Homo sapiens: one gene and its partners. The protein of the gene in region 2 purifies or fractionates together with the protein of the main gene of each other region. This does not show direct contact. Each region holds a gene or a part of one and is shown on either strand. Other genes may lie near its edges. The genes, in order: FZD6, VNN2, ATP2A1, COX18, LMBR1, S1PR5 and GPAA1.

The links.
Region 1: the proteins of VNN2 (region 2) and FZD6 purify together in Homo sapiens (affinity purification with mass spectrometry; 2 studies listed by BioGRID and IntAct, with this or other methods). This does not show direct contact.
Region 3: the proteins of VNN2 (region 2) and ATP2A1 purify together in Homo sapiens (affinity purification with mass spectrometry; 2 studies listed by BioGRID and IntAct, with this or other methods). This does not show direct contact.
Region 4: the proteins of VNN2 (region 2) and COX18 purify together in Homo sapiens (affinity purification with mass spectrometry; 2 studies listed by BioGRID and IntAct, with this or other methods). This does not show direct contact.
Region 5: the proteins of VNN2 (region 2) and LMBR1 purify together in Homo sapiens (affinity purification with mass spectrometry; 2 studies listed by BioGRID and IntAct, with this or other methods). This does not show direct contact.
Region 6: the proteins of VNN2 (region 2) and S1PR5 purify together in Homo sapiens (affinity purification with mass spectrometry; 2 studies listed by BioGRID and IntAct, with this or other methods). This does not show direct contact.
Region 7: the proteins of VNN2 (region 2) and GPAA1 purify together in Homo sapiens (affinity purification with mass spectrometry; 2 studies listed by BioGRID and IntAct, with this or other methods). This does not show direct contact.

What each region holds. Positions count from the first base shown.
Region 1 is NC_000008.11:103,319,398-103,322,897, reverse strand, and holds part of FZD6 (frizzled-6 isoform a precursor), read right to left. Parts: intron 1-3,500. UniProt on the Homo sapiens protein: Receptor for Wnt proteins.
Region 2 is NC_000006.12:132,743,370-132,745,637, forward strand, and holds the end of VNN2 (pantetheine hydrolase VNN2 isoform 1 precursor), read right to left. Parts: exon of another isoform or gene 2,063-2,268; intron 1,123-2,062; coding exon 931-1,122; 3' UTR 501-930; downstream 1-500. UniProt on the Homo sapiens protein: Amidohydrolase that hydrolyzes specifically one of the carboamide linkages in D-pantetheine thus recycling pantothenic acid (vitamin B5) and releasing cysteamine. Involved in the thymus homing of bone marrow cells.
Region 3 is NC_000016.10:28,884,988-28,888,487, reverse strand, and holds part of ATP2A1 (sarcoplasmic/endoplasmic reticulum calcium ATPase 1), read right to left. Parts: intron 1,300-3,500; coding exon 1,214-1,299; intron 1,064-1,213; coding exon 766-1,063; intron 1-765. UniProt on the Homo sapiens protein: Key regulator of striated muscle performance by acting as the major Ca(2+) ATPase responsible for the reuptake of cytosolic Ca(2+) into the sarcoplasmic reticulum.
Region 4 is NC_000004.12:73,063,217-73,066,716, forward strand, and holds part of COX18 (cytochrome c oxidase assembly protein COX18, mitochondrial), read right to left. Parts: intron 2,198-3,500; coding exon 2,034-2,197; intron 1,687-2,033; coding exon 1,562-1,686; intron 1-1,561. UniProt on the Homo sapiens protein: Mitochondrial membrane insertase required for the translocation of the C-terminus of cytochrome c oxidase subunit II (MT-CO2/COX2) across the mitochondrial inner membrane.
Region 5 is NC_000007.14:156,890,384-156,894,548, forward strand, and holds the start of LMBR1 (limb region 1 protein homolog), read right to left. Parts: upstream 2,801-4,165; 5' UTR 2,621-2,800; coding exon of another isoform or gene 2,611-2,620; coding exon 2,545-2,610; intron 1-2,544. UniProt on the Homo sapiens protein: Putative membrane receptor.
Region 6 is NC_000019.10:10,514,648-10,518,828, forward strand, and holds the start of S1PR5 (sphingosine 1-phosphate receptor 5), read right to left. Parts: upstream 2,801-4,181; 5' UTR 2,751-2,800; intron 383-2,750; 5' UTR 365-382; coding exon 1-364. UniProt on the Homo sapiens protein: Receptor for the lysosphingolipid sphingosine 1-phosphate (S1P). S1P is a bioactive lysophospholipid that elicits diverse physiological effect on most types of cells and tissues. Is coupled to both the G(i/0)alpha and G(12) subclass of heteromeric G-proteins.
Region 7 is NC_000008.11:144,081,161-144,085,433, reverse strand, and holds the start of GPAA1 (GPI-anchor transamidase component GPAA1), read right to left. Parts: upstream 2,801-4,273; 5' UTR 2,704-2,800; coding exon 2,630-2,703; intron 2,311-2,629; coding exon 2,131-2,310; intron 2,046-2,130; coding exon 1,934-2,045; intron 1,721-1,933; coding exon 1,573-1,720; intron 1,496-1,572; coding exon 1,394-1,495; intron 1,301-1,393; coding exon 1,104-1,300; intron 1,022-1,103; coding exon 825-1,021; intron 713-824; coding exon 559-712; intron 392-558; coding exon 296-391; intron 146-295; coding exon 1-145. UniProt on the Homo sapiens protein: Component of the glycosylphosphatidylinositol-anchor (GPI-anchor) transamidase (GPI-T) complex that catalyzes the formation of the linkage between a proprotein and a GPI-anchor and participates in GPI anchored protein biosynthesis. Binds GPI-anchor.

The DNA of each region.
Region 1 (3,500 bases), on a different chromosome or scaffold from region 2:
AATTAGGAATAATCTACAATCAATATTCTTGTGCACGACTCTCTGTGTAAGAGTTTCTATGGGAGGGGATTTCCTAGGATGCAGGGTTAAGCATCTGCCATTTTACTATATGTTACTCAATTGTTCTTGAAAATGATTATGTATCTACCAGAAGTGTGTAAGTTCCACATAGGTTCTATAGTTTCTTCAGCCTAAAAATAAAACAAAAAGCTAACCAGTTTCTTTCCCCAATTTATTATATGAGGTCTCACTGTATCAGTAGAATAAATTAGCAGCCTCCACTGTCTAGAGAATAGGAAAAAAAAATTAATCAAGACTAATGTGGAAAAGGTCAGTGAATGGATACATTCATTCATAAGTTAATTGTGCTTAAAATCTTACTTTCTCCACATGAACTCTAATTGCAAATGATCAAGTCAGTCAGTATTCATCAAGTTTATTCACTATCACGGAAAGGTCCAGATAGAATATTTCTTTTAAATATATGCCTGTATATGCCTGAGATTCTTTTTTTTTTTTTTTTTTAATGGAGACTGGGTGTCACTATGTTACCCAGGCTGGTCTTGATTTCCTGGACTCAAGCAATCCTCTTAAATAGCTGAGAATACAGCTGTGTACCACCATGCCTGGCTTATGCTGAGATTTTTATATCCAAAAAAGACCATTCACCTTGCCAAAATATTACATTAACAGTGGTCTGAAGGTATACGGAACAAGTATAGTCAGCATTTTGATCTTAACGCAGTAGAATATTTCATGTTATAAAAACATCTGTTAAGCATGTTTGTAACGTTTTCACTTTGAAATGCACTTATTAATTATAAAATCTGTCATAGCATAGTGGCTGAGATATGGAAAGGCCTCTGATAAATCACAATAGGAAAGTGTGTTTTCATGAAAGCAAGGCAGCTATACCTTTGAGGAGAAAAAGTTAGACTATCATAATAAAGACAGGAAAATGAGTGTAAGGAAAGAAGTATAACAGAAAATTAGATTCCACAGACTCTCAGGTGGTATGGTGGACATGCACTGCTGTGGGGAAAGAGGGAGAAATGAAAAGAAGGAGCGTCATGGGTCAAACGAGTGGGATTCATCTATTGGCAAGCTACCCGAGGATGGCTGGAGCCGGAACTGAAAACAAAGTTCAGTTTACAAAACTCTTCACGTAGAAAAGAATGTGCCTGTGCTCTGATGAGCTGAGGAAACTACAGACCTCAAAGAATGAATGCACCTTTTTCTTCCAAGGCAAAGGCATTCTCCTGGGGAACCAAGAGCCTAATGCATGCCATAACCACACAGTTCTGCCGTTTCTCAAATAATAGATGCAGCCTTCATGTTTTTACCACAGTTATGTTAAATCTTTCATTATGCTAGAAATCTTTCAATGAGCTAGATTTTGTGTTTTAATCAGAGGTTCCCCTCTTTCTTTGTGTGTGTTTTCAAAGTAAATAAGATGCCACAAAAGCCTGAAGGTCTTATTTATAGAAATGAAAAAATATTCTCCAGTATAGGCCATACTAGAATTATTTTTATGTGCAGCTGACCCAACTAACATTGTATAAAAGGATGTTAATGGGTTTGCTTTATATTAATGGGACATGGTTTAATATAGGGCTTAAATAATTTTAAAAAATGAATTCTACTTCCCAATTCAATGTATCAAGCATTCTCAAACACGAATAAATTTGATTTAGATTAATTCCGTTTCTCCAAAAATCAAGTTACGAAGACCAAAACTCCAACAGAGTTAGAAATTAAGCATAGGTGCCAGTGTAAATTTTTTTAAGTTATAACCTCCCCTGCTTTGAAACTGAGTAGGCAATCTCATAATGAAAGAGCAAGTATTTTCTCCACAGGCCTCACCGTCTTCTCATATAAATATAACTTATTTACTGAATCTTCTCCTTCCCTCCACTAAAATGTAAGGTCCATGATGGCAGGAATTTTTGCCTGTTGTAACTCTAGTGCCTAGAACAGTCCTGGCACACAGTAAGAGTACAAGAAATATGAGTTGAATGAATCATCAGTTTTGTCTCCTTTCCTTTTGCTGTCATCATCCTTGGTGACTTGACCAAGAATAAGCTATCCACACTCTGGCTTCTCGGCTCTTTAGCCTCCTCATCTCCAATGACTATCCCTAACCCGCAGTGGCCACCTGTAATCAAAGTCACACAAGGAACCCTGCCACAACCTGCAAGTACACACTATCTCCAAAAATCAACTCAAGCATCCTGCCCTTCGTCTGCAAGCTCCTATCCTTGCAATTCATTTTTTAAAAAATCCTCATTATGCCTTTAAAAAAAAAACCTCATTGGGATAGATCTCCTCCAGCTTGTCTCCATACATTAGTTCATTTCTCTCTTCATTTCGCTCCCCATCTATTTAGACTTTCATAGGCTATTGTTTCAGTAACACCCTTCTCATTATCCTTCATTTTTTAGTGCACCTTTATCTTTGCACTGAATCCATCTGACAAAACCCCAACCACAGATGAGCACAACTATCTGCCTTCTCTGTGCTTAGCCCCAAGCATCCCACCACAGCTGGAGAAGTTCTCAACAGGCCAGATGAGATCCACACATTCAGGATCGCCTGATTTACCTAAAATGTTACGAAGCCTCTCTAATTGACTCATTCTCCCATGCTCCATGATGACCACTTCTCTCGAACACATATCCTTCTTTCCCAGACTCACAACAGAGGACCTCCTTGACTCTTACTATGTCACAATGGAAATAGAAACCATCAGAAAGAAATTATTGCAACAACTCTTACCAAACACACAAACCTACTATATCCACAGCCATCCTATCCTTTCCTACTGTTACAACAGATGTTCCTCCCATCCATGGCCAAAATGTCATCTATGCTTGGGATCCTATCTCCTTCTTAGAAAACTACTATTGATGACCTCTTCTACCCCATATATGCTTGCCTCTTCCTTTTTCCTAGTAGTTCTTAAAATAGTTCTTTCCCATTAAACTCATAAACTTTCCTCTTTTATAGCCAGCTTCCCTAAGAACTCTGTTTCTGGCTTTACTTCCTCTTCACTCCTTCACCTACTGTGATCTGTCCTTTGCCCCAGTCACTCTAGTGAAATAGCATAAGGTAATGTTCTTTTTGACTGGCAGCACCTGACATGTCCTCTGCCTTGAATGCTTTTTTCCTTCAGGACACACATTTACTATTTTCCCTATTTGTTTCAGTTATAACCACATGACTGACATCTTGCCAACAGGAATGCATGTGGAAAAGGTATAACACTTCCCATCTGAGGCACTCAAGAAAAGGCGTGAGTTCTCTACCTTCTCTCTCCCATCCACCTGGCTGACAGAGTTGGAGGATGGAAGTGTCCTGGATTCCTAACAGAAACTGCCAGAGTGCTGCCCAACCCTCAGGAGACTGACACAGGTGCCATGCTCTACACAGAAGCTCACAGGATTGTGCTACCCATTCCTGTCTTAAAATATTAAAGACCTCACTGCTTTCAGCATAAAAAT
Region 2 (2,268 bases):
AAATCAAATCCATAAGTAGGTTTATGACAATATGTAAAAACAAAAGATAAATGCTTCAATTGTGTTTTTTTATGTAAAAGTATTGAATTTAAAAATACTTTGGGAGATAAAAATCAGAAAATAAATCTGAAAATTCAAAATCAGTTCTTTAATTTTAAGAGTATCTGAATTAAATGATCAATAACAAATATACTAGTTTACTTCAAGTAGCATGGAATATGTGTATTTTGTAAAAAGTCAACCAAATGCTGAAAATAGTGTAACTTTTAACTGTCATGGTCTTTGTGTTATGAGATTTCTGCCTGTTAAATTACGCCATAGCCTTAAGGTGGGACAGCTGGGGCTATGAGTGCCCTGGGTCAGGTCTCCTTTGATATGAACTTGGAATAGCCATCAATTCTTCTAGCACTCAAAACTACGTTCACTGTAGAAATAAATGTCGACATTGCCTTTTGATTGGAAAGTAAATCTCCTGATAAACATTAGCACAGAAAACTAGGTGAATTCAAATAGTCTTTAATGTCAAAGGGAATTCAGTCATAAACCTCTAAATTCCCATCATTACTATTCTCTTCAAGGGCACAGCTATGTTTGCAATGGCCCTGAAACTCCTCACTCCCATACATACAAGTCCCCCATACACACAAAGTCTCAAGCAAATGAGGCTGGAGCTGGAGTTTGATCTTCATTTATCTGACCCAAACACCCAGGCTCTTTCCATTGTTCCACACTGCAACATTTCAGAGTAGCCAAAAAAATGGACAACATTATCATAATACTTAAAAAATAATTATTGATGAGAAAAAATATTTAGGACTCACTGGTCTATACTACTGAAATAGCCCTTCAAAGTTTCTTAGTAAACTTGGGAAGCCGATAAACACATTCAGCCAAGCATATGATGCAGAAGCTGAGTGATAAAGAGACGCCCTATAACATTACAATATTTTGCAAAGCTATGATCATTAATAATATGAATATTAGCAGGTAAGTTATTGCTGAATTGCTGGTCCCACATGAGCTGTAAAGTGAGTCCTTTGTGTACCACCTCCCAAAGAGTGACACTGTTAGTATAGGCCCAGATGATCCATTCTTGTTTACCAAACGCCCATCTTTCAGCACCTAAAGAAAAGGTGGGAAAAGTACAGTCAGCTTTCTTAACATAGAAGTTAAAAGCAAATTAATCATTTTGAAACCATCCTAGATATAATGTATAGTCAAATCATTTCTGATTTAGGAGGATGCAGCAAGTAGGCCAGGCAGGGGACAGCCATTTACTACATAATGAAGACTAGAGCAATTCAAGAGGGCCCAAGATTTTAGTTTCAACAATCAAATGTAACCATTAATGGAAAGTCAAAATCAGCAGCAGCAATTCATTGAGTTCGATTATGTGCAAGACAATCAGGAACCAGAGAGTTATACATCACATCCTTCCCTCAAGAAGCTAAAGAGCTAATGGTGAAATGGAGCGGATTCTAAACATAAAGAGAGAAATCAGTTTATCAGTGTATCAGAGAAGAGAACAGGTAAGTGCTAGGAGGTCTGAGAAAAAAAAAACTGAACTGGTCTGTTTCACGGAGTGGGACACAAGCTGCCAAAAACTCAAGCTGTTAGGAATTTCTTTCAAGGGCTGTATGGTGGAAGACATTGTGGGAAGTGGACATTGAACCAGCAAAGGCTCATTCTGAGACAGAAGTGTGTGTGACAGATCAAGGCAATGTGAGTTCTCATTCTAGATTGGTTAAAACCAGTGGTGTGCTGGAGCTAGTGGTGCACAGGCTCATGAGAACAGATTGTTAAATTTCCAGGAAATTGGACAGCTGGCTGTTAAACACAGCCATTCTTTTTTTCCCCCTTTTTTGAGATGGAGTCTCGCTCTGTCACCCAGGCTGGAGTGCAGTGGCATGATCTTGGCTCACTGCAACCTCCGCCTGCTGGGTTCAAGTGATTCTCCTGCCTCAAGCTCCCCAGTAGCTGGGATTACAGGGGCGTGCCACCAAGCCCAGCTAATTTTTGTATTTTTAGTAGAGACAGGGCTTCACCATGTTGCCCAGGCTGTTCTCGAACTCCTGGCCTCAAATGGTCCTCCCAACTCAGCCTCCCAAAGTGCTGGGATTACAGGCGTGAGCTATCAAACTCTGCCAACAGATCCATTCTTGAAGCTGGTGGGATCATGGCGGGAATATTGACACAATGAAAACTGGCAAATTCCATAAGTCAGGGCTTTTTGTTTTCTACCTCAGAGAAGGAATTGTTTAAAGTTAC
Region 3 (3,500 bases), on a different chromosome or scaffold from region 2:
ACAGTGAGTTATGATTGTGCTACCACACTCCAGCCTGGGCAACAAGAGTGAGACTCTGTCTCTATTAAACAAACAAACAATAATGGTCCGCAAAGATACCAGATCCTAATCCCTGGAGCCTGTAAATGTTACCTTACTTGGAAAAGGGGTCTTTGGGCCAGGCGTGGTGGCTCACACCTGTAACCCCAGCACTTTGGGAGGCCGAGGCGGGTGGATTGCTTGAGCCCAGGAGTTCGAGACCAGCCTGGCCAACATGGTGAAACCCCATCTCTACTGAAAACACAAAAATTAGCCAGGCATGGTGGCGTGCACCTGTAATCCCAGCTACTTGGGAGGCAGAGGCAGAAGAATCACTTGAACCCAGGAGGCAGAGGTTGCACTGAGCAAGGCCGGGTGCGGTGGCTCACGCCTGTAATCCCAGCACTTTGGGAGGCCAAGGCGGGCAGATCAGGAGGTCAGGAGATCGAGACCATCCTGGCTAACACGGTGAAACCCCGTATCTACTAAAAATATAAAAAAATTAGCCAGGCATGGCGGCGTGCACCTGTAGTCCCAGCTGCTAGGGAGGCTGAGGCAGGAGAATGGCGTGAACCCGCGAGGCGGAGCTTGCAGTGAGCCGAGATCACGCCACTGCACTCCAGCCTGGGTGACAGAGCAAGACTCCATCTCAAAAAACAAAAAAGAAAAAAAGAAAAGAAAAGAAAAGAAAAGGGGTCTTTGCAGATGGGATTAGCAAATGGGAGGAGAAAAGAAAGGCTTTCATACCTTCGGGGATGGCAGCCACAGCCAAGGCCACGGCAATCTTAAAGTAGTAGATGGCCCCGCGGAACCAGGAGCCCCCATGGACGGGGTCGTTGAAGTGGCCAATGTTGATAAGCCAGACAGCCACACAGATGAGGGAGATGACCTTGGAGAGCTGCTCCCCAAACTCATCCAGCTTCTGCTGCAAGGGGGTCTTGTCCTGTTCTGTGGCAGCCATTTGGTCTCGGATCTTCCCAATCTCGGTGCCCACACCAGTGGTGGCCACGATGCCCAAGGCCTTGCCGGCTGCAATGTTGGTGCCCTGGGAAGGGAAAGAGGAGGCAGGGAATCAGGCAAGAGGTGACCCTCATGCCGCATCTCCCCACGCCATCTCTTCTCACACGCCATGTTTCTCTCCAACCCGGGCACCTGGCTTGACTGAGTGTGTGATGGCTGGTCCCGGATTGCTCACCGAGAAAAGCATGTTCTTCTTGTCCTGGTTGACAGCTCGGGGGTCAGGAACGGGCTCCGTGTGTTTGATGACAGATACAGACTCGCCTGTGGAGAAGGGGCCAAGGGGTTTTCGGATGACATCATGTCCTTCTCCCAGGCTTCCCGTGCCTAACTCTCTCCCTGCTCAGCAGGACAGCTCCTGGTAAGGACCAAGTAGCCATCCTGGGGGATGTCTGGACTCTGGAAGAAGCCACTGAAGGCAGCTAGGAAGTCCATTGCTCCTTTTTTTTTTTTTTTTTTTGAGACAGAGTTGCAGTCTTGTCACCCAGGCTAGAGTGCAGTGTCAAGATCTCAGCTCACTGCAACCTCCCGGGTTCAGGCAATACTCCTGCCTCAGCCTCCCAAGTAGCTGGGATTACAGGCACATGCTGTCACACCTGGCTAATTTTTTTTTTTTTTTTGTATTTTTAGTAGAGACGGGGTCTCACCATGTTGGCCAGGCTGGTCTCGAACTCCTGACCTCAAGTGATCCGCCCACCTCAGCCTCCCAAAGTGCTGGGATTACAGGCCACCGTGCCCAGCCAGAAGTCCACGGCTCTTAAAAAGACCTCGACCCAAGCCCCAGCTTGACCACTAACAAGCTGTGTTTGATCACCTAACTTCCATGTGCTCCTCTGTAAAATGGGGACAAGGACATGTACACTGCAAAACAATGTCTTGGGTGAAAATCAAATAAGTGGACATATTTGGAGCCACACTTTTAACTGTCAAGCATGTTTCTGGGAGGAAGGGGGACCTACACTTACGACCATGCCTCCCTCACCCTAAGAGCAGGGGCTCAGCAGCAAGCCTGGGCCAGCCTAGCCCTTGCCCCCTGGGACCATGGGGAATGTTTTCTGCCTCTTCTTCGCTTCTCCCTGCCAGTGCGGAAACAGAAGCAGCTATGGTGGTTTTACAGAGACAGGGTCTTGCTCTGTTGCCCAGGCTGGAACGCAGTGGTGTGATCATAGCTCATTGCAGCCTCAAACTCTTGGGTTCAAGTGATCCTCCCACCTCAGCCTCCCAAACAACTGGGACTACAGGTGTGCAGTACAATGCCCAGCTAATTTTTAAAAAAATTTTATAGAGATGGGGTCTTGCTCTGTTGTCCATGCTGGACTGCCGTGGTAATCATAGCTCACTGTGGCCTCAAGCTTCTGGGCTTAGGCAATCCTCCCACCTCAGCCTCCCAAGTAGCTGGGACTACAGGTGCACACCACCACACCCAGCTAGTTAAAAAAATTTTTTTTTTATAGAGATGGGGTCTCGCTGTGTTGCCGAGGCTGGTCTGAAACTCCTGACCTCAAGTAATTCTCCTGCCTCAGCCTCCCAAAGCACTGGGATTACAGGTATGAGCCACCACGCCCAGCCTAGCAGCCATGGTTTTCAGTGTATCTGAACCCCCTATCTTGTCCTAGAATCTCATGGCTCCTCCCTGGAGGATTTTTGAGGAGGCTGAAGGAGACAGGACAGTTCTCGAGGTGTCTGTGGCCCTATGTCCATGTGGAAGGGGTGGGCTGGTGGCTATCTAGAGAGTAGGCAACAACATCCAGCCTTCTCCCACTACCCGTCCCGTTTCAGGCTTGGGACAGAATGGAAACGTCAAGCAGGTCAGGTGCAGTGGGTGGCTCACACCTGTAATCCCAGCACTTTGGGAGGCTGAGGTGGGTGGATCACGAGGTCAGGAGTTCAAGACCAGCCTGGCCAAGACGGTAAAACCCTGTCTCTACTAAAAATACAAAAATTAGCCGGGTGTGATGGTGGACGTCTGTAATCCCAGCTACTCTGGAGGCTGAAGCAGGGAATTGCTTGAAGCCAGGAGGCAGAGGTTGCAGTGAGCTGAAATCGCGCCACTGCATTCCAGCCTGGGTGACAGAGCAAGACTCCATCTCAAAAAAAAAAGAAAATGTCAAGCAGTGCTGCCACTGCCACAGCCACTACTAGCGAGCCAGGGGGAGGCCCCAGTGCTGGGTTTTGTTTTGTTTTGTCTTTTTTTTTTTTTTTTGAGATGGGGTCTTGCTCTTGTTGCCCATGCTGGAGTGCAGTGACATGATCTTGGCTCACTGCAGCCTCAGCCTCCTGGGTTCATGCAGTTCTACTGTATCAGCCTCCTGAGTAGCTGGGACTACAGGTGCCTGCCACCACGCCTGGCTAATTTTTGTGTTTTTTGTATTTTTTGGTAGAGATGGGGTTTCACCATGTTGGCCAGGCTGGTCTCTAACTCCTGACCTCAGGTGATCCACCCACCTCGGCCTCCCAAAGTGCTG
Region 4 (3,500 bases), on a different chromosome or scaffold from region 2:
AATCACCTGAACCTGGGAGGTGGAGGTTGCAGTGAGTGGAGATCACACCACTGCACTCCAGCCTAGGAAACAGAGTGAGACTCTGTCTCAAGAAAAAAACAAACAAACAAACAAACAAAAAACACAATGCCTTGCACATAGTGTATGTTGAGTAAGAATAAGCTTTTAATAAGCTTTTATTTTTCTTTTAGAGGTGAGGTCTTTCTCTCTGTCGCCCAGGCTAGAGTACAGTGGTGGGATCACAACTCACTGCAGCCTCCATCTCTTGGGCTCAAACAATCCTCCTGACTCAGCTTCCAAGTAGCTGGAACTAGAGGCGCACGCCACCATGCCCCGCTATGAAAACACCTTTATTAGTCTTTAGATGACATAGAGGAAAAGACTAGGGGATTGACATTGATTCACTGTAACCTTGTGCTTATCACTTCCTTCTTTCTACCAAATATTCACTGAACACCAACCACAGGGGACTGTGCTAGTGCTCTTAGGGAAACATATTTGGACTACAGGTAGAGTCTTTCCTCAAGAAACTTTCACTTAAGACCTTATATTCTATCATCTCCATTTTCCTCATCTGAAAGAATAAGGGGTATATTAGATTTCACAAACAGGCATCAGAGGTCATGAGGTCTGGGAGATCTCTACTGAGGTAAATCATTTTTAAGATTTCTTCCAGTCCAGTCTGTTCTACTCAGAGTCTGAGAACAATTTATGAAATTATATGCACGCTTTCCCTAAACTGCTGAGTAAAGCAGCCTGTGATAAGGGTTAAGACATGACTGAGAGGGCTGGGCACAGTGGCTCATGCCTGTAATCCCAGCACTTTGGAAGGCCAAGGCGGGTGGATCACCTGAGGTCAGGAGTTCGAGACCAGCCTGGCAAACATGGTGAAACCCTGTCTCTACTAAAAATACAAAAATTAGCCGGGTGTGGTGGTGTGCGCCTATAATCCCAGCTACTCAGGAGGCAGAGGTTGCAGTGAGCCAAGACTGCGCCATTACACTCCGGCCTGGGCAACAAGAGCAAAACTCCATCTCAAAAAAAAAAGAAAAAAAAAGACATGACTGAGAGGTCACATTTTCTATGTGTATGTTTTTCCCATTTCATCTTATAAAGACATTCAATGACTTTTCTAAGGTCATAAAGCAAGAAAATAGCAGTCAGGGCCTGACTTGTGTTCTCCGCCTACAAATTCACATATTAAACACACACACGGAACATCACTCTATTTTAAGAATACAACCAGATTGACTGGGCATCTTTATTACTGTTTTTGCCAAAAGCAAGTCACAAAATTCTATGTATCAGAATCATATAATTTTGAAGCTGAAAGAGACTTGGAAGTATACTAGTGCTTTTACTTTAATTTCGAGAGTTCTGAGGCCCAGAGAGGTTAAGGGACAGGCCTAAGCCAATGCCTGACGTGGAACCAGGAACCAAGGGATCTCACTTCTAACTCAGAGCTATCTTCACCAACTCAAACAAAAACAGATTTGAAGTCAAAACAGCAGCAACAAAAATCCCCATAAATGGCAAACAAATTTCATTTAAAACTACTGACCTCCACTATTAACAAATTGATGACGCCAACAGAGATAGGCAGAATCCAAGTGGAGTCGGGTGCAGTGAGGTCAGGAAACCACAGAATTCCACCAGTAGCTAACTGTTCCTGAACAGAAAAACCTGCTAAAACAGTTTTATAAATAAAACAATAGAAGTCCTAAAAATAGCAGAGAAAAATATATAAGACATAAATAAGTAGTCTGACAATTCCAATAAGGTGTCCCTCACAGGAAAGATCTGCACTGGATTTATTCCAGTTTTTCACGCACAATATATATATTTTTTCTCAATACAAAATGTTCACAACACAACCAATCTGTTTACACTTAAGACTTTAAATTCTATACCCTTATAAGGAAGATAGTAAACATATCGTAATTATGAAAAGTATGCTTTTTTTTTTTTTTTTTTTTTTTTAGTACAAAGACAATGTTAGAGAACTTCTTTGGGAGAAGACATACAATAATTACCTTCTGAATGTGCTGCCCCCGTGCTTAAATTCCGGAGAGCAAAAGACATGAAGATCCACATTGGAAGCTGAATCCAAACCAACACAGTGGCTTTGAAAGGGTGGCAGTTATCTCGCACATATAGCTCTGAAATTAGCCTCCTCATATTCTTTAGATAAGTGAGCCTAGATTGAGGTTAGGGGGAAAAAAGGGGAAAGAGAAAATGTCATCTAAGAATCGTGCTTTATTTCCATAGCACAAATAGCGCCTGCTGTAGTTATTAGCTAAAGGATTTGTATAAGGGTTTCAGCTGTCACAGGCATGTTAAGGAGTTGCCTAAACAACAGGCAAATAAAGCCTTTTATCAAAACTTCTACAGTATGGTACACAAGTTACATAACAATCTGAAATTGTCAGACTACAGGCTTTGTCTCTGGTGGTCTTTGGCTGATTAGGCTTTAAAGGTAAATTTCACTACTGACATGGTATAACTACAATTAATATTGGAAATATGGAAGCTAAAAGCAAACTTTAATCAAATCTCTCCACTCCCGCCAAACTTAACCACTTCATCCCTGAATATACCTTTTGGAGCTATGTGGTTTTATACTGTGTATGCTCTTGGCCTGTCAAAATAGTCTCCATTTTTCAATCAACTATCTCACAAAGATATTTTTAATCTGTTTCTCTGTTAACCATATTAGTTACTACTGTTTTTTCCTGAAATTTTACTTTTTAGAATACAGTCTTCCTTCAGGTCCAAGAGAATAGGAGTTAAAAAACAAAAACTAAAGTATTCTTAGTTTAGGGGACAGTGTTCTATTTTATTCATCTTTAAATCTCCTGTATCATATATTTTGTACAGAGGAGGCATTCAATAGTTTTTCTGAATTTAGTCAAATTATAGTGTATAATAAGACAGTACACAAAGACATTCTAGGTCCTCCATAATTTCACATTTGCCTATTCTTCCAATTTTATCTCGTTACTCCTCTAGACACCTGCATATTCTGGTCTGAATGACTTTAGTTCATCCAACAAATCAGACTTCCGCATAGGCATGCCTTTGGAAGTACTGTATTATATCATCTGTGTGGAAAGCCCACTTTCCTGGCTGTCCATCTGACACACCGTCTTTTACCCTTCAAGACTCAATACTATTGAAAATGCAGGAAGCTGGCCAACACTGTGGCTTGCACTTGTAATTCCAGCTACTTGGGAGGCCAAAGTGGGAGGATTGCTTGAGGCCAGGAGTTTGAGATCAGCCTGCACAACACAGGGAGATTCTGTCTTGTTCAAAAAAACAAAAAAGAAAAGAAAAGAAAAGAAAATGCCAGAAGCCCTCAGATGTTTCCTCCTAGAAAGAAACATCTGTAAGGCTGTATCTGCACAACCATCCTGCCAGTACTGCTTAAGCAAGGTGCCACAAGTCTTATCTAGGCTGCGTTGATAACCCAGGCAAGCAGCTATTAATCTGGTTCTTTTGGC
Region 5 (4,165 bases), on a different chromosome or scaffold from region 2:
GAAAGGCATCCACAGAGTGGGAAAGAAATATGTGCAGTATATATTTCTGACAAAGAAATCATATCCACCTGTATAACAATATAATACAAGTTATTCTGTAAAGACCTTGCAAATCAATATTAAAAAGATAAACTTAATTTTTAAATGGGGAAAAAAATTTGACCCTTCACAAGATTTCCAAATGGCTAATAAACAAACAGGTGCTCAAATTCATTAGTTATCAGGAAAATGCAAATTAAAATTATTTGTATGATGAACACTATAACACACTTGCTAGAATGACTAAAATTAAAAAGGACAGAAAATATCAAGTATTGATAAAGATGAGTAACAACCACACCTCTGAGACTGTCAGTACTGGCGGAAGTGTACACTGGTACAACCACTTTGGAAAATTGTTTTAAAGTATCTACTAAAGATGAACAAATGCACACTCTTTAACCTAGGGATTCCATTCCTAGGGCTATCCCCAACAGAAATGCACAAACATGTCCACCAAAAGCTATGTACAAAAAGTTCATAGCCAGCCCGGCGTGGTGGCTCATGCCTGTAATCCCAGCACTTTGGGAGGCCAAGGCAGGTGGATCACCTGAGGTCAGGAGTTCAAGGCCAGCCTGGCCAGCATGGAGAAACCCCGTCTCTAATAAAAATAGAAAAATTAGCTGGGTGTGGTGGTGTGTGCCTGTAATCCCAGCTATTCAGGAGGCTGAGGTAGGAGAATCACTTGAATCCCGGAGGCAGAGGTTGCAGTGAGCCGAGATTGTGCCACTGCACTCCAGCCTGGGAGACAGAGCGAGACTCCATCACAAAAAAAAAAAAAAAAAAAAAATATATATATATATATATATATACACACACACACACACACACACACACATATATACATACACATATATATACACATATATATATTCATAGCCAAAACCTAGAAACTACTGAAGTGCCCATCAACAGTAAAATGAAAAATAAATTGTGCTATAGTCACACAACTACTGCACCGAGAATGAATTATAACCACATACAACATGGAGAAATTTCACAAACATTGTACAAGAAACTGGACACAGAAGAGTATATACGGTAAGATTCCATTTACATAAAGTTCAAAACTAAGCAAAAACTAATCTATGATATTAGAAGCCAGGGCAACGTTTACCCTTGGTGGAGGAGAAAGTAATTGGAAGAGGGAAAGGAATCAGTCTCTGGGATCCTAGTAAAATTGTGTTTATTTATTTATTTTTTTATAATGGTAGAGATGGGGATTCACTATGTTGCCCAGGCTGACCAGTCTCAAACTCCTGGTGGATTCAGGAGTACACAGGCGTGTTTAGTATGAAATGATCTGAAGGGTACATGTATGATTACATGAACTTATCTCTGTGTATTTTAGCTTCAATTATAAAAATTACAACTAAATGTGTACCAAATTCCACTAACTCAAATTCCACCAGCTCAGACTTTATATGTCCTCTTTATTCAAAGTATGACTTCCAAAGTGATTCTCAATTTTCAAGATCAGTGAGTACACAAATTAGATAATTCTAAAGCAGAATTTTTTCACCTCAAACCAAGTGTGACTGAATCGTAGACAACTTAGGAGAGGCGTAAATATAAACATAAAAAATTGACATATTTTACAACAGTTATGAAAACACAGATAAACCCAATTACAATACATTCTAGAGCATCATGAAAAGATAAAAACATCAAAGTAGACTTTCCAAGGTCAAGTCCGCTTCCTGACTCCTGCCAACAGCACACATGGAACATGGGCCAAAAAAGAAGCTGCTTCCCTAAGAAGTTGCTTCCATAGCAAAATGGACTTTTGCTGAGGTCCTCACTCCCAAAAATAACCAATATTCTCATCCCAAACGGTAAGGTTTCGAACTCAACCCACGTGGGGGCTGGGGGAGATGAAAGAGGGATGGAAACGTGAGGCGCCAGGAGGGCAGGAGGTGTTGACCGGGACAAGGTAACCGGCCGGGTCCAAACGCGAGAGGCGGGCGGGCTCCGCGCAGCCCGGCCCTTCCCGGACCCGCCGGGCCCACCCAGGCTCTCCGGGACGCCTGCGCATCCACCTGCCTACCTGGCCTGGCGGCGGAGCGCGGGGGCGCGCACTGGCGGGGCCGCCGTCCACACCCCGAGGCGCGAGCCGCACACCCGCCCAGAGAGGAAGCCCCTGGGGTCCCAGAGCGCGGCGCGCACCGCAGCCCTCCCCGCGGGAAGGGAAGGGCAGCACCGAGGCCGCGGGGCGGGGGCGGGGTCGGGGCTCGAACGGAGGGAGCGCGAGGGGGCAGGGGAGGCAAGAGCGGAGCGGGGGGGCAGGCAGAGGAAGCGAAGGGGAGGGGAGGGGAGAGGAGAGGTGGGGAGGGAAGGGGAGGGGAGGGGAGAGGAGGGGTGGGGAGGGAGAGCGGCAGAGGCCGGGGCGGGAGGCGCGAGGCGAGGCCCGGAGGTGAGGGGTCCGGGGACCGGGGGCCCGGGGGCGGGGACGGAGGGCCCGGGCGGGCACGCGGGACTGTCAGGGCTGCCTCGGTCCCCACGCACCGTGGACTCCCGCACTTGGCTGTGGAAGTGCTGCTCCCGCGCCGACACCTCGTCCTGCCCTTCCATCCTCCTTCATGCCCGCCGCCGCGCCGCCCGCGTCCGCGTGCTCCGCCACACCATCGTCCGCCCGCCGCAGGGGCTCGGACAGCCGCGCCGGGGACCGGAGCCGGCACGGGCCCGCGAGCCGTGTTGGAACAGGTACCGCGACCACGACACCGGCCGTCGCCTCAGCAGCCTCAGACGAGCAGCTCTGACTAAGGGAGGGCGGGCGCCGCGCAGTCGGGGGCGGGGCGGGGGCGGGGCAGGGAGGGGAGGGGGCGGTGCAGGCATACGTCAGACGAAAGGCGCCGATGCGTCAGAAAAGCGCGCCTCGCGGTCTTCCGAGCTGCTGGGCCGGGAGGCGCTGAGGGGGCGGGGCCTTGAGGTCGCGGGGCGGGGCTCCGCCCACGCTCTCAGGGGCTACCCCAGTTAAGGAGGCGCTGTCCTGGCGTCGGATGGGGACGGGGAACGCGGCGAGGGCGCTGCGACCTCTGCCCACCTGGCCCGGCCGCAGTCTCGGAGTTCCTGTTCCTCACAGGAGCTAATTATTTATGACAGCTGCATGGTTCCCCTCCCCCAGTTACTCAGTGCTTGGCACTCGGCACCCCTTACTCAGCACTCAGTACCGCACTCGGCCTCAGGGGACCTGGGCAGAGGGAAGCAGGGAGTCTCCCGCGGAAACTCTTGCTCTGCCAAAGTAGGTTGAAAGGTCGGAAATCGGTGGTTTGGGGCCGGGCTTTGGGCGGAAACCCAGCTTCTCTGGGTCTGAGAAGGGTCTTGGGCTGCCCCACCTGGAAAACGCAGATAACCGAGCTCGCTAGACCCTTGCCAAGTCCTTCCGGTAGCTCGGTCACTAGGGTCAGTTTTATGACTCTCAGTGGACCCTAAACAGCACGTAATATATGTATTTTTCACCGCCAAATATATCAAACACAATAATTCACCCTCCGTTCCCTATTATCTTTCTTTTTGTTATAAAATTTGAATTTAAGGGAATGTTTATAATTTTACCTTAGGATTTATTTGGCTACGAGGAAGTCATTTAAATTGCTAGTGGCTGCGATTTTTGTTTTTGGCATCTTTGAGAATTCTTAGGAAGTGTGAAAATCTACAAATTGCTTTCAAATGTCATTTAGTTTTTGTTTTTGTTTTTTTTTTTTTTGAGACAGAGTTTCACTCTTGTCGCCCAGGCTGGAGTGCAATGGCGATCTCTGCTCACAACAACCTCTGCCTCTTGGGTTCAAGTGATTCTCCTGCCTCAGCCTCCCGAGTAGCTGGGATTACAGGCGCCCGCCACCACGCCCAGCTAATTTTTGTATTTTTAGTAGAGACGGGGTTTCACCACGTTGGCCAAGCTGTTCTTGAACTCCTGACCTCAGGTGATCCGCCCACCTCGTCCTCCCAAAGTGCTGGGATTACAGGCCTGAGCCACCGCGCCCGGCCGTTGTTTAGATTTTTATGAATCTAAATTTAACAGTCAATGAAGTTGTTGTAAAGTTCTTCAAAGACAAATATGTGGTAATTTAAACCTTGCCGTTTCTCTTCACAATTTTGAGTAGAGAAAATTTTTTCACAACTCAAA
Region 6 (4,181 bases), on a different chromosome or scaffold from region 2:
ACGCAGTGAGTGCCACGAAGACGCCTCCCTCCCGTGCGAACCAGAGCGCGGGGGACAGTTTCAGCGTGAGCGGCCCCGACAGTAGGATGTTGGCGGCGTAGGCGGCGCCTGCCAGCAGATCCGACAACGTGAGGCTGCCCAGGAGCAGGAACATGGGAGCGTGGAAGCGCGGGTGGCGTCCGAGCACCAACAACACGGCTAGATTCTCTAGCACGATGAAGGCGCACACCGCCAGGCACACCACGGCGTCGGCGCGCAGGCCGGCACCCGGCTGGTAGCGCGCACCGCGGAGCTTGCCGGTGTAGTTGTAATGCAGGACGATGACCTCGCTCACCGGCGCCGGCCGCAGCAGCCCCGACTCCATGGGCCGCGCGCCCCAAGGCTGTTGGAGAGGCAAGATACGGTGTCAGGCCGCGGTCCCCGTAAGCACGCTCGCAGCAGCCGGCTAAGTCGTGGGAAAGGGGCCCTACCCACTGACCATCACCCCCTATACATGGTGTCCAAGGGGGAGTTCAGGATGGAGGGATAGAGTCCGTGGAGACAGACATACACACAAATAATATCACGAGGGAACAAGGTGACATAGTCCCAAAAAAAGGGACATTAATAACACATGAATGGCTGGGCGCGGTGGTTCACACATGGCTGGGCGCGGTGGCTCAGGCCTGTAATCCCCGCCTGTAATCCCCCCAGGCTCAGGCCTGAGGCAGTGGCTCAGGCCTGGGAGGCCAAGGGGGGCAGATCACGAGGTCAGGAGATCGAGACCATCCTGGCTAACACGGTGAACCCCTCCGTCTCTGCTAAAAACACAAAAAATTAGCCAGGCATGGTGGCACGTGCCTGTAGTCCCAGCTACTCCAGAGGCTGAGGCAGAAGAATCATTTGAACCCAGGAGGCGGAGGTTGCAGTGAGCCGAGATCGCATCACTGCACTCCAACCTAGGTGGCAGAGCGAGACTCTGTCTCAAAACACCCCCCCTCCCCACCAAACACACACACGGCTGGGTGTGGTGGCTCACTCCTGTAATTCCAGCACTTTGGGAGGCTGAGGCGGGAGGATTGTTTGAGGCCCAGGAGTTCGAGATTAGCCTGGACAACATAGGAGAACCCCGTTTCTACAAAAATTAGCCGGGACGTGTTGGTGTATGCCTATAGTCCAAGCTACTCAGTGGAGTCCCAGCTGAGGTGAGAGGATCACTTGAGCCCGCGGGGTCAAGGCTGCAGTCAGTGAGCATTGATTGTGCCACTGTACTCCAGCCAGGACAACAGAGCAAGACTTTGTCTCAAACACACACACACAAACACACAAGCAGGGAGTTCCAGAGACGTAACAGTAAACACACAGAACGCACACAAACGCAACACACACAGAAAGAGACACACAAATACAGCGACACACTACAAGGGCAAAACACACAGTCACACACTATCAGGGAAACTAAAAAATACATCATACAGGAACAGAGTGACGCAGGCAGAAAAACACAGCGACCAAAATTCAGTCACACGAATACAGGGTCTCCCACCCAGTGGCACAGGCCACAATTTCACAACCTCCACTCACACTAGCCTGGGGCCCAGTGCACCACACTCCACACTCTTGTCTCACTGCATACAAAGCTTTTTCCTGCCAAAACCCCCTCATCCACCCAAAACCCCATGAGAAAGTTGCTCCTTGGCCAGGCACAGTGGCTTTCGCCTGTAATCCCAGCACTTTGGGAGGCCGAGGTGGGAGTATCACTTGAGCCCAGGAGTTCGACACCAGCTTGGGCAACATACTAAGACTTCATCTCTACAAAAAAATTTAAAAATTAGCCAGGTGTGGTGTTATGCCCCTATAGTCCCAGCTACTCAAGAGACTGAGGCGGGAGGATCACTTGAGCCTGGGAGGCCGAGGCTGCAGTGAGCCATGATCGCACCCCTGCTCTCCAGCCTGGGTGACAAGAGAGAAACTCCGTCTCAAAAAAAAAAAAAAAAAAAAAAGTTGATCCTATTCACTCATTTTACTAAGGCAGAGCCTGAGGACAGGAGAGAGAATCCACAAGAGGCAAACAGACTCTTACAGAGGGGCACACATGTCATTAAACTGTAATAACACTCCTCACCTGCCTCTGTGACCTTATTAATCCCCACTTCCTTTAGTCCTAATTTACAGATGAGAAAACTGAAGCTCAAAAGAAATGCTTCGTATCGAAGCAGGCGCAAAGGTTTCCATGCTCCCACACAAACATCCATGCACAAATAGTCCCCATGCAAGTCCAGATGAGAAAGCCAAGGCCTGGGGAGGGGAATGGATCTCTTTTGCACAAGGCAGGGATGCGGACATCCCAGAGAGCTTCAGTCACACACAGAGAATCAAGGCAGGCAAACATAGACAGGAAGTCGCTGGCTCACCCATGCTGGAGGTGGGGAGCCCAAATACAGGGAGACAGGGTTACACATGCTCTGAGGGGGAGGCCAACCCCATCCGCCCAGCTTGCCCGGCAGCAGGACTGAAGTATGGAAACTTGCAGTGGCCCGGCCAGGAGGGGGTGGCCAGGGGATTCCAGCCACCTTCACCCCGTATCCCAGGTCCTGCACCCAGCTGGGGAGCCCCCAGCTTCCCCCTCCCCAGAGGCCTCCAGGAAAAGTTCGGAGAACTCCCTGCAAGGAGTGGTGCGCCTTTTTAGACCGGGAAAGTGGCCGCCAGGGCGACCCCCTCCGGGTCAGGCCCAGCCCAGCGCCCCCAAAGGTCCAGTGCAGTCCACTCACTCTGCGCCCTGGTCGTGCGCCACCCGCAGTCGCGCTGCCTTGAACCGAGTGAGCGGACGCCGCTCCGGGGGCGGGGCTGGAGCTGGCAGGCGAGGGGGCGGGCCAGCGACGCAAAGGGCCGGCGGTCGCCAGCAGTTGCCCCCTCCCCTTGGGTCCCGGGCACTCAGCCCATGGCTGCCAGCCTGTGCCACTCGCCGCGGCACCGGAGCGCGCCCCGGCGGCGACTGGCACAGGCGAGCCCTCAGCTGCCCCCTCCGGGCCTGGGCTGTCCTCCCAGGGACGCTCCATCGCGGTGGGAGGACTCGGAGAGGCGGGAAAGGGAGGGTTCTGCAGCAGGGCGGTCGCAGCCTGAGCCTCTTCTCCCCAGCGGAGGGGTCTCCTCTGTCCTGGGTGTCCGGGCACTGCGCCCTCCCATTGCCCACCCACCTGTGAACTGAGCTTCCTGGGCTGCACCCCAAGGACGCCCCGTCGATGATTCGGAGGGGTCTTCAGTGGGTTGCTTAGCAGGAGTCTTCAGTGGGGGCCACCTTAGCCTGAGTCCTCTCCCACCAGCAGATAGGTTCCCGCTGCTCCCGGGCACAGGCCCCTCCCAATTTCCCGCTCCCGCCCCCGGCTCAGGGCGAGTGGGGGTGGGGCGGGCCCGGGCAGGATTGTGATGGGAACTTGCCGCTCCTCAGATAAGGAGGGTCTCTCCTGTCCCACCCCCTGGATTCCGTGTTCCCCCGACCGATTCTCTCCCACCCTTATCGCTGACGACAAAGTGATTTACTCATTAATGGTGTTTCTGGGCTGTGTCCTTAGCAGACAGTAAACCCCAGCAATGTAAGAATTTCTTTTTTTTTTTTTTTTTTGAGACAAGATCTTGCTCTGTGGCCCAGAGTGGAGTGCAGTGGCAACATCATAAGTCACTGCAGTCTCGACCTCCGCGGCTCAAGCCATCCTCCCATCTCAGCCGGCTGAACGTAGCTGCTGGGACTCCAGTCGCTTGCAACCATGCCCAGATAATGAATGAGTGTCTCCCTCACTTCCTCTGTATCTCTCTCAGGAGGATCTCAGAGTCTCTCGCCTGCGTGTCTCTTTGTCTCTGCGTGTCTCTTTGCCTCTGCGTGTCTCTTTGTTGCTGTCTGTGATGCTCTCCCACGCCTCTCCCAGGCCACTGCTCCTCCAACGACCAGTCCCGCTGGCCCCGAAACGCCCCCACCCCGACTTCCCAGGAACTTCCAGACGGTCCCAGCTCTTCCACCCTCAGATTCAGGAAGGGAGGCTGGGTCCCGCTGCTGCGACCTTCTCCAGGACCGTGCCCTTTGCCCCTGATGCTTCAGGCCCTGCTGGCCGCGGGTGGGGTGAGGGCGCCCCAGGAGAGATGAGCCAGAGGCTGAGAATAAGTGTGGATCCGGGATACCCTCGTGGGAGGAAACTCAGGGGGCACTC
Region 7 (4,273 bases), on a different chromosome or scaffold from region 2:
GCAGTGTCAGCACCACAGCCTCAGCCTCTGCCACTGGGAAGTGCTGGGTGGCAACGTGTTGGCCCAGCACTGGCAGGACATAGAGGGCCAGTCCCATGGCCTGTGAGATCAGCAGAGGTGCCACGAGCGAGGCCAGCCCCACACCCTGCAGGGCACACAGGCTCTTGGAGATGGACCCTGGGGCCAGGGGATCCCCAAAGACCACCACCATCCCACCAGCTGAGGCTAAGTTGCAACACTAAACACCAGTCAGACCCCAGAAGCCCATTCCAACAACAGAAGGGGGTGCCATCACCTGTGATGGGGGAAGGGGTACACTGGGGCCAGGGGCACCCCCGGGCTCCTCAAGGCCCATTCCAGCCTCATGCAGCTGCATCCACAGTTCCAGAGCGTAGCCCAATCAAGGACCCCAACAAGAGGTGTAACGGGATCTGCCCAGAGGGGGACCCAGGGCTCACCCCCGTACCCCACCCCCCATCAGGATGGAAGACTCTCCCCAGCCTAGAGTTGAGGAGACTGGAGGCTGGTCACAGGTAGATGGCAAGGGGCAGAGGATATCTTGAGACCAAGGACCAGGAGCAAGAAGCCGACAGCGGGCATGTAGAGGCCGATGGAGACGAAGCGGGAGAGGCCGGGGAGCAAGTAGAGGAAGAAGGACTGGTGCAGGCGCTCCAGGAGGTGGTTGAGCTTGCGGAACATGCCCTCCAAAGCCCTGTCAGGTGTGGGGCAGGTTCACGGCTGGCCAGAGCCACCAGGCCATCCCCCACTCCGCTCCAGCTAGACCCCATCCTGGGCATGGAAAGGGGGGACCAGAGACTACTTACTTGCCCACTGCCACCAGGTCATACTTGTACTGGCGGAAGCTATTGATGCCACGCAGGGTTAGGGCCTCCACACGGTAGCGCAGGAAGAGGCCATGGGAGCCGTGGGGGCGGCCGGAGGCCTGCCGCAGAACCATGAGCAGCAGTGTCTGCAGGCCCTGCAGCGGTCCATCCAATGATGTCCAGTCCTCGGGCTGCAGCTTTAGAGGTGCAGGACAGGATGAGACAGCCCCTCCCACAGACCCTGTGCCCTTCAGCCCTCAGGCAGGCAGGCAGCCCCACCTTGCCCTGAAGCGTGCACAACAGGCCCCCTTTCTGGCAGAAGGTCTGGAAGAGATTGAGCAGGTCAAGGTTGGGCAGCTGCCCGTTAAGCCCCTCCACGGCCACATCGAGGCTGGTGACCACATCACTGCTCAGCTCCAGGGCCACGGCTGCCTGAATGGCCCCAGCTCGGCCCTGCAGGGGAGACGACTGCATGCCTGTAGGAGCAAGTGAATGAGTGCTAATGGAGGACGTGGTGAGGACAGTGACCCTGAGAGGGGGACCAGGGCAGGCAGGACAAGAGAACCTACCAGTGACATTGACATCGTGGTAGGCTTCAAGCCAAGCCTCAGTGCCCAGAAGGTCATGTTCTGTTACCAGGAAGACGATATCTTTGGCCCAATAAATCTGCCCTGGAGGCCAGAAGCAGGATCAGCAGGGTCTGGGGCACTGACCAAACCCCTCCACGGCCAGCAGCCCTGAGACTCACCCCGGAAGTGGGCAGCCAGTGCCAGCAGCAGCCCCACAGCCTGGCTGTTGGTAGAGTCAGAGCCACAGGGCACGGTGAGCACAAGCGACTCGGTGCTGGCAGCACGCGGGGCCCGCAGGATGCCGTACACGTTGGTGCCCGACACCATCTGTATGCAGCATCGGTGGGGGGAGCCTCAGTGTAACTTTGTGGTAGGGGGCTGAAGGGCCCCCCACAACTTTCCTAGCCCTCCAGTGCCCACCAGGGATTTCCCTCCCACTGAGCTTCCTGGCCCCATGACACCCCCGCAAGGTGATACCCAGCCCAGACCCCTCCCTCCAAGGTGCTTTCTGGGCCCAGGCACACCCCACTCCCCCAGTACATAGCGCTCGTGGGTCTCATCTGGGAAGGGCAGTTTCCGGGAGAAACTCTGCGTGTAGACCTCCAGCCCTACTGACCGCATCGTCCGTTCAAGCCAGGCCACTGGCAGAGCCCTGCAGACACGAAGGGAGCCTCTGAGCAGAGCTCCCCGGCCTTAGCCACCACTGCTCGCCCCATACGCCCTGCTCTGCCGCTCACCCCGACTTCTTGCGGTGGGCGGCGAAGTCCCGGGCAAAAGCCCGGGCACGGTCTCCGCCCGCAAACTGCTCCTCCACCATGGTGGAGCCCATGGCGTTCTCCGACATGTAAGTGCGCTGGGTCAGCGGCGGGAAAACCAGCGCCAAGAACCAGGCGATGCCCGCCACGTAGCTCAGCACGCTGTGAGAGAGGACGGAGGGGCACCGGAGCGTCAGCGGGTCCTCAGACGCCGACCCGAGGCCACAACCTCCGCACCCGGGGTCGATCGCGCGGGTCTGGGAGACCTAAACCCGGAGTCCTGCATCGGGACGCCGGACCCGAGCCCTAAGCCTGGGCCTGATACCCTCAGTGCTTCCAGAGGGCAGGAGCGGAAGGGCGCGAGCAGCCGGAGGGGCGCGAGCAGCTGGAGCGGCCCCGGCCCTCGATGGGGACCGCGCATGGGGCCGCCGGCGCGAGCCCAGGGCCCTCGGGTCCCCGCCTCCCCGGGCCCTGTCCTCACCACAACGGCGCGTTGAGGCGCAGCACTAGGCGGGCGAGCGCGCGCCGGCGAACCGGGTCCGACAGGAGGCCCATGGCGGGGCAGGGCGGCGCGGCTACGGACCCTCTCCCGCCTCCAACTACCGCCGCGGTGCCCACAGGCTGCTCCTGTCAGACCCGGGGACCCGCGCTCGCCCGCACTTCCGGTCCCAGAGACGCTCGCGACGGCGCGCATGTCCAGAGCAGAGGGCGCGCCCCTAACACTGTGTGCTGCCGGCGCGCAAGCGCAGAGCCGCGGCCGGCTGGAGGGTGGGCGGTGCCGGTGAGGCCGGCAGGACCTGAGCGGGTTTGGGAGTCCGCTAGGCGCTGCCCCCACTAGAGTCGGACTCGCAGTGCACCCCCCGGGAGGGAGGCAGGTAGCCCTACAGCCGGAGGACAGCAGAGATGCCCGACAGCAGGCCGAGCTGGTCGGGGGCTGCGAGATAGCGCCGGCTGGAAGGCCCGCAGGAGTCAGAGGTGATGAGCCGGGCAGGTGGGTGGAAAGCCGGCGGCGGTCAGAGAATGGATGCCAAGCGAGACTGCCAATGACTCAGGACGTCCCAGTGGAGTCACAGCGTGAGCCCAGCACCGAGGTTTTCAGAGTCAGATGACTGCAGAGAAGATGCTGATGGCACTACTGGCCAAAACGGGCTTCACTGGAGCTGGGGTGTGTGCATTATAAAGTGGGGGATCATACTGTCACTGTCCGGGCCAGGAGATCCGTGGAATATTAGGGGAGAAGCAGTCCCAGGGTCCAGACTGCAGGGACTGGTAGTCGGGGCTCGGTGGGCCAGAGGTGAATGAAGGGGGAGTTTGCTCAAGAGGGTGCACTTTGGGAAGGTGAGGTGGGTGGATCCTTTGAGATCAGCCTGGACAACGAAATGAGACCCAGTCTGTACACACAAAAAAATTCCTTTTAAATTAGCCAGGTGAGTGGGGCATGCCTGTAGTCTCAGCTCAGGAGGCTAAAGTGGGAGGATCACTTGAGCCTGGGAGATCCAGACTGCAGTGAGCCGTGATCACACCACTGCACTCCAGCCTGAGCACAGAGCAAGACCATGTCTCAACAAACAAAATAGTGGTGGGCAGAGAGAAGGGTCAAAGCTGAAGACTCCATGTGAGAACAAGTTTTTTTTTGTTTTTTTTTTGAGACAGAGTCTTGCTCTGTCACCCAGGCTGGAGTGCAGTGGTGTAATCTTGGCTCACTGCAACCTTCAACTCCTGGTTCAAGTGATTCTCCTGCCCCAGCCTCCCTAGTAGCTGGGATTACAGGTGCCTGCCACCACACTAATTTTTGTGTCTTTAATAGAGATGGGGTTTTACCACATTGGCCAGGCTGGTCTCGAACTCCTGACCTCAAGTGATCCATGAGAACAGGTAATTTTTGTACTTTTATTTTTTTTTAGATGGAGTCTTGCTCTGTCGCCCAGGCTGGAGTGCAGTGGCACAATCTCGGCTCACTGCAACCTCCGCCTCCCAGGTTCAAGAGATTCTCCTGTCTCAGCCTCCTGAGTAGCTTGGATTACAGGCATGTGCCACCACTCCCAGCTAATTTTGTATTTTTAGTAGAGACGGGGTTTCGCCATGTTGGCCAGGCTGGTCTCAAACTCCTGACCTGAAGCAATCC